2 linked regions of the Homo sapiens genome follow. The protein of the gene in region 1 purifies or fractionates together with the protein of each later gene. This does not show direct contact. Each region holds a gene or a part of one and is shown in the gene's direction. Other genes may lie near its edges.

Region 1 (3,786 bases):
CACTTATTAATGATTTTCCAGGAGGAGGAGAAGAACTGGGGGTGTGGTTTGATGTATTATAAAGCAAGCATTACTACCTTGAAAATAAGGTAGTAATTCTTTTCACACTCACTCAGAATGAATGCTCCAGGTTCTCTAAATAGCATACGTTCACAGATAGCACATTCCAGGTGAAGGGACAGCAGGGTTTTAGCAAAAGGGAGGGAGCCCTGCAGTAAGGGTTGGGCCAGTGGAGGCAGAGACAGGGGAGGCATGAGGTCTGTTTAAAAGATGCCAGCTGGGCGTGCTGGCTCACACCTGTAATCCCAGCACTTTGGGAGGCTGAGGCGCATGGATTACCAGAGGTCAGAAGTTCAAGACCAGTCTGGTCAACATAGTGAAACCCCATCTCTACTAAAAATACAAAAATTGGCATGGTGGTGGACCCCTGTAATCGCAGCTACTCAGGAGGCTGAGGCAGGAGAATGGCTTGAACCCAGGAGGCAGAGGTTGCAGTGAGCCAAGTTCACGCCATTGCACTACAGGCAAGGTGACAAGAGGAAGACTCCAATTCAAAAAAAGAGAGACAGGACAGGTGGAGTGGAGGGAAGGTGGAGGGGATGGCCCAACCCAAGATGCCAGGACCCCAGAGGTCCACAGAGATGAGAGTGGGGGTCTGGATGGCCAGCGTGTCCCATGGGAAATTCATCCCTCACTTCTGCACCCTGCACCTGGTGGCTGTGCCTCAGTTGCCTTCACTTTGGGCTGGAGCTTCATGCACCAGCACCATGTCTCCCAAAGCTAGAAGCTCTGACCTCCAATCATCCAGGAGTTTTACTTTTTTTTTTTTTCTGTAGAGATGGGTTCTCACCATCTTGCCCAGGCTCATCCCAAACTCTTACACTCCAGCAATCCTCCCACCTTGGCCTCCCAAAGTGCTGGGATTAGAAGAGTGAGCCACTGCACCTGGCCCCAAGTTGCTGATGAGTTTAAAAATGGGTATATGAACCGGGTGCAGTGGGGTGTCCTGTAGTCCCAGCTACTCTGGAGGCTGAGGTGGGAGGATCGCAAATTCAGATCCAGCCTGGGCAAAATAGCAAGACCCCCATCTCTAAAAATAAATAGATCAATAAAAAGGAGTTTTGGGCAGCAACATGGATAGAAGTGGAGGCCATTATGTCAAATGAGATAAACCAAGCATAGAAAGACATATATCTCGTGTTCTCACTCATATGTGGGAGCTAAAACTGTGAAGTGGGTCTCATGATGACAGACAGTAGACTGCTGGTTACTGGAGGCCAGGAAGTGGAGCAGGGACGCAGGGATGAAGGAGTGAAAAAGAATAAAGATACTTATTGTCACTGAACTGCACACTTAAAAATTATGAAGATGGGCCGGGTGTGGTGGCTCACACCTGTAATCTCAGCATTTTTGGAGGCCAAGGTGGGCAGATCACTTGAGGCCAGGAGTTCAAGACCAGCCTGGCCAACATGGCAAAACCCTGTCTCTACTAAATATACAAAAATTAACTGGGCGTAGTGGCACCTGTAATCCCAGCTACTCGGGAGGCTGAGGCAGGAGAATCACTTGAACCAGGGAGGTGGAGGTTGCAGTGAGCCAAGATCAAACCACTGCACTAAGCCTGGGCCACAGAGCAAGACTCCGTCTCAAAAAAGAAAAAAAAAAAAAGATGCAGATGGTAAAGTTTTTTAAAAAAAGGAAAAAGAAATATCTATTGAAAAACTGAAAAGAAACAGAGGTGCCAATTCACTATTAGTTAATGAGTATGTTTCCTACCAGAGACAAATCCTTCAAAATATAGGCTCTGCAGAAGGGCAAGCAACTTGGACAGTGCCCTTCAAGGGATGAGAGAAGCTTGGGAACCACAGAGGCAGTGACAGGGGATATGGAAGGCAAGCTGGGCCTAAGGCCCTTGACCCCCAGGTCCCGCCCCAAAGTGGCCAGGGTCAGTCCCAAGGTGCTGACTTTTGGAGTGTTGCTCTATCTTATGTACAAGTTAGTGCAACCTGCTTGTATCAGTCTTTCAGGCTACATGACAGTGAACTCCATGAAGGCCAAATCCCTGGAGAGTACCTCATGCAGCCCATCAACAAGCAATTGCTGGATGCAATTGCTCTCTGGGCCCAAAGTGAAAAGATGGCAAAACTGCCTGCTCCTCTCCCAAGCTCTCCACCATCATTTCAGACCCCCACAACTGCCTCCATACCCTTTACCGCAATCCACATAAGCAGATCAAGAAAACTCAATTTCCTACTCTCAGCTGATACACTCAGTGTTGCTGAGCGAAAATAGATTCCTATTAAATCCCACCAATGGGGTGAAAAATTTCCAAGTATTTGAAGTTTTTAGAACCCTCACATATGGGTTTTATTTTTCAGGATGCTCCCAAGTCATAAATCCACTCATGAGAGTGAGGACAAAGATCAAGACAGTTTTGCTCTCATCTGAGTGAGAAAAACATTCCTTGGTGGATTCTTGAGCGTTGGAGGAAAGCCTTCCTTTCTGCCAAGTTCCTTTTTAGGAAATTAGCTTTGGACTTTAAAATGATTTTAAAGTTGTTTCTGGATTGAAAAGGGCATCTGGCGCCTGGACAACTTTTCCTGGTGCCTGAGATATCAGAGCAGTCACTTGCAACTTTCTACAGATTTCTGGCCTCTTTGGAAGCATTCCTAAATCAAGAGCAAAGTCATTCGCCATTGGCCACCTTGGGTTCCAAGTCAAGGGTAAGAAATGGAGCTCAGGGTCATAATGAAGTCGTTTGGATGCTCAATCTAAAATCAACAGGCTCATCTAGGCTGTGTTTGGGAAAACATTATTATAGCTAATTTGTGTATTCATTGGAGAAATATCACAGAAAATGCCAAAATTAAGTAGCATGCATAGACAGCCAGCATCTTCTCATGTGAGCAGTGCTAGGGTCCTGCCAGGTTAAAAGCCCCCGGTGTGCATCCTCCTCCCTTTCTCAGCCTTCACTAGGCACCAGTTTGCGCTGCTCTTCTCTGTGAGTTGTCCCCACTGGAGACCCACGATCAGCCTGAGCAGGGCTCAGACACAGAGCTACCTGGCGGCTACCTGGCGGGCCAAAGGGTTCTTCCTAGAAACCTAGGCTGGGCCATTATCTACCTTTGTTCCCCCTCCAAATACTCTGTGATCGTTAAAGCTGTTTTCTTGAGAAACGCTATTTGCTTTAAAAGTTAGAATTGTATTTATTTATTTATTTATTTGAGACAGGGTCTTGCTCTGTTGCTCAGGCTGGAGTGCAGTGGTGGGATCATGGCTCATTGCACCCTTGACCTCTCAGGCTCAAGCGATCCTCCCATCTCAGCCTCCCAAGTAGCTGAGACCACAGATGTGTGCCATCACATCTGGCTAATTTTTGTATTTTTTGTAGAAATGGGGTTTCTCCATGTTGACCAGGCTGGTCTCGAACTCCTGGACTCAAGTGATCAGCCCGCCTCAGGCCCCAAAGGGCTGGGATTGTATACAAGCATGACCTACCATGCCTGGCCCAACATGTTTTAAATTAAAGGTGGTGAGAAACAGTTTAGAAATCATGTTTTTAAGCACTTTGCTGGAGCTGGGCTGCCTGGGTTTGAATCCCGCCTCCACCACCTGCTAGCTGTGTGACCTCGGATGAGTCGGTTAACCTCTCTGACCCACCATGCTCCATGTCCTCCTCTCTAAAAGTGAAAGAAATAGGACAAGTACAGTAAAGATCATACAGGATCGCCATGAGTGTTCAATGAGATGGTGCACAGAAAGCTCTTGGCCCTTGCAAAATTTTAG
Region 2 (3,588 bases), on another chromosome or scaffold:
TGGAGGAAATAGTAGATTTCTTACGTTAAATCCTGTATGTCTAATTATAAGAACAGGGAAAGGGACAGTAAAGTGAAAGAGCATAGTAAAACTTCCAAGTTAACAAGGGGGAAAATGGAATGAGTGGAAACAAAATCAAGCCAGCAAAAATAGAGAAGAGGAAAAAAGTAAGAGACAGTGTAAAATAAGTAATAATAAATGTAGAGTAAGATGGAAGGAATAAAAACTAATGTAGTTGTTACTCTGCTAAATATGAATGAACTGTCAGATTAGGTTCAAAAGCTCATGAAGAAAACAGACAAAAAAATACAAGGTCACATTTGTTATAGCATATTAAACTGACATAAAATTGTATTTTAACAAACATAATCAGAACAAACAACAAAAGGGAAAAAGAGAAATTTAAAAGCTATGTACATTTATTGAAAATGTATAGATCGGCAATTAATAAGAGTATTGCTCATATACTTGTAACTGTTCCTTGTTCAACAATTGTAACTAAGAAGATTGAGTGAAATAATGATTCCCCATATGAAACATCTGTATGAACACATGATGTATTACCAATATTTAAAGTTTTTTTATGTAACAAACTTGGTTTTTGTTAATTTATCTAATCTAGGGTAGGTTGAGTACAACACTACTCATGGAGAATGATTTAATTCTAAATTGTTCTGTTCTGTAGAGAATCCAGTCTGCAGAGCTAAGTTGATGAGGAATGGAAGAAGAGATTTTTTGAAGAAATTTCTGCAAACTCAGGAATTTTTTGTATCTACTTTAGGATTGTTATGTATCTACTTTATCCTAATAGAGTTATACTTGTATTTAAATTATCTTTCATGACAGGAGGTCCATGGGTAAGTGACATTGTTTTCCTGTATTATAGAAGAGCTTCCTGCCAAGAGTTTGGTAACCAATGAAATGAATTATTCTTATTGAACTCACTATTCTGTCACTGAAACATAAAGTACAAATTGTAAATATACTAACAAACCCCATCTTCTCTCTCATTGCATTGTTGAATATCTTCCTTTGTAGGTTTCTGCTTGTGGAGCAGAATGAGGAAATTTGTAAACTCAGCCACTGTTCTAATTTTTCTTTTCCGCTGTTCTAATTGGTGTTTTTTCTTGTCTGCCCTTTATCTTCTAGGAGGAATGCAGGCTCAGGTTGGAATGCCAGGAAGTGGACCAGTGTCCATGGAACGGGGGCAAGGTAAATAAATATTAATGTCTGACTAATGTTAATTGGTCATGGAAGTGTTCCACATCCACAGTATCTAATATGGCAGCCACTAACCACCCATGGCTATTTCAATATTAAGTTAATTAAAATTAAGTAAAATTTAAAACTCAGTTCCTCAGTCACAATAGCCACATTCCAAGTGCTCAGTGGCCACAGGTGACTAGTGGATACCATACAGGACATTACAGATATAGAACATTTCTATCATCGTAAAAAGATCTATTGGACAGTGCTGGTCTAGACTTTCCACCTGGTGATTCAGAGTCCAGCTCTACAAGAATTGATAATGAAGCAAGTGGATCGTTTGTTTCCTGATTCCTAGTCTAATAATTCCACTGACATGTTCTCTCTCCCTGTATGGATATCTGTTGACTGAGTAAGGAATTTTAATAATGAGCATGTAAATATGTGGCTGGGTATGTAGAAGACTAGATTTAAACCCCAGAGAAAACTGGGAGGGAATCATAGGTCTGTAACGCCTACTTAATGAACATATGTTGTACCGTGGCTGTACTGCTATATACAACAGTAGCTGCTGCTCCAAAATCTCCATGTTGTTTCTTCATGTTACTGGAGTTTGAAGGACAAGAAAGTGCAGTGGTTCAGTTGGAAACAATGTTAGGAGGAGAGATCGTAAGAAAAGAGAAGGAACTGAGTGCATACTATATGCCAGGCACTTTAATTTTCATAAATAATCTTGTGAGTTAGGTGGCAGCACCTCAGTTTTACAGGCAAAGAGTTGGAAGCTCAGAATAAGTTACTTTCTCAAGGGGACAAGGTAAGTAAATATTAATGTATGAGTAATGTGGACTGGATTTGGTGCTCTTATTTTCTCTTCCAACTAGTAAGTGGCAGAGCTAAGATTCAGAAGTCTTTGACTCCAGAATCTGTCCTCTTTCTGTCACTCCACACTGCCTCTGTTAACTTCCAAGCATATTCTTCAGTGTCTTCTACTCTTATTCCTTGGGAATAAAATGATGGGAAAGACTGCTTTGGACAAGCATAGAGAAGCTTAAGGTTTTTTCTTTTGTAGCATATGGTTTATAAGTGGAACCCATTTAAAAAGCAAAATATTGGCCAGGCGCAGTGGCTCATGCCTGTAATCCCAGCACTTTGGGAGGCTGAGGTGGGTGGATTGCTTGAGCTCAGAGGTTTGAAACTAGCCTAGACAACATGGCAAAACCCCGTCTCTATAAAAAATACAAAAACTAGTTGGGCAATGGTGGTGTGCACTTGTGGTCCCAGCTACTTGGGAGGCCGAAGTGGAAGGATCACTTGAGCCCAACAGGTTGAGACTGCAGTGAGCCATAATCGGGCACCACTGCACTCCAGCCTGGGCAACAGAGCAAGACCCTGTCTCAAAGAATATATATATATACACACACACACACATATATATACACACATACATACATAAACATTAATATACAAGCCTGTGGTTTTTACACTGGGGTTGGTTGCTGAAGTGACAGAATTAACTTTTTCTTGTTAGAAGTCTGACAGCAGGACAAACTCCCTGGCCAAATATCTCATATTTTCTCTAAGCATCCAATGCTTTTGTGCTATTGTACATCCCTCTATCCCCACCGCACCACTGTCAATAGATCATATATGTTCCCCAGAGTATTTCTGCAGTAATGAGAAGGTATTAGGGTTTCAGTCATACTTCTGCCTGTCATGGGGCCAGCCCTCAATCCATCAGGTTTTAGCTGTTTAACGCATACTTGCACAAGACATCTTCCTATTATAGTTATCTTCACCTTTTTGTCAGAAATTGGCAAAGGGAAGTGACTCATGTTTTGAGGGTATTTCCAGGATGTCTTCATGCAGAGACTAAGTGAGATGAGCTTTCTTTTATAGTTTCCTTCAGTACCCAGCAGAGGAAGCAAGAGTCTTTTCGTGTGTGCCTAGTTTGTCTTACTTTTCCTGAAATCCATGCTGCTTTTAATGCTGAAAGGAGATGGAGATGTTTGAGAAGATACTTCTTGCTTCCCTGCCATGTTTGTTTAGTGTCGGTTCCCATGTCATCTCATTAGTCTTTGTTTGCTGTTGTCATGATGTTTATTATCAAAGACTTGCTGTGGCAGAGTATTTCTTGTGGAGTGATATTCTCTTTCATCATGTAAAGTTCATTCACTGCATTTCCCCATCTGATACATTTTTGACAGCAGAAATTTTTGTGCTTTAAAATGTGACAAAAATAGAATTGCCGTACTTCAGTTATGGCCGTTTCAGAATGAATCTTGCCTTCCAGATTCAGTGCAGTTTCTTTTATGTTTTGCTTCTGAAACTACATTTATGTTCTTTGCATAACTAGAAGATTCAAAACTATCCTTTTTATATATT

Evidence for each region. Proteins that work in one complex are often made in the same cells at the same time.
Region 2: the proteins of NGEF (region 1) and CSTF2 purify together in Homo sapiens (affinity purification with mass spectrometry, with the first as the bait; one large-scale study listed by BioGRID). This does not show direct contact.

Annotation. Positions count from the first base shown.
Region 1 is NC_000002.12:233,006,682-233,010,467, reverse strand, and holds part of NGEF (ephexin-1), read left to right. Parts: intron 1-3,786. UniProt on the Homo sapiens protein: Acts as a guanine nucleotide exchange factor (GEF) which differentially activates the GTPases RHOA, RAC1 and CDC42. Plays a role in axon guidance regulating ephrin-induced growth cone collapse and dendritic spine morphogenesis.
Region 2 is NC_000023.11:100,826,891-100,830,478, forward strand, and holds part of CSTF2 (cleavage stimulation factor subunit 2), read left to right. Parts: intron 1-1,149; coding exon 1,150-1,212; intron 1,213-3,588. UniProt on the Homo sapiens protein: One of the multiple factors required for polyadenylation and 3'-end cleavage of mammalian pre-mRNAs. This subunit is directly involved in the binding to pre-mRNAs.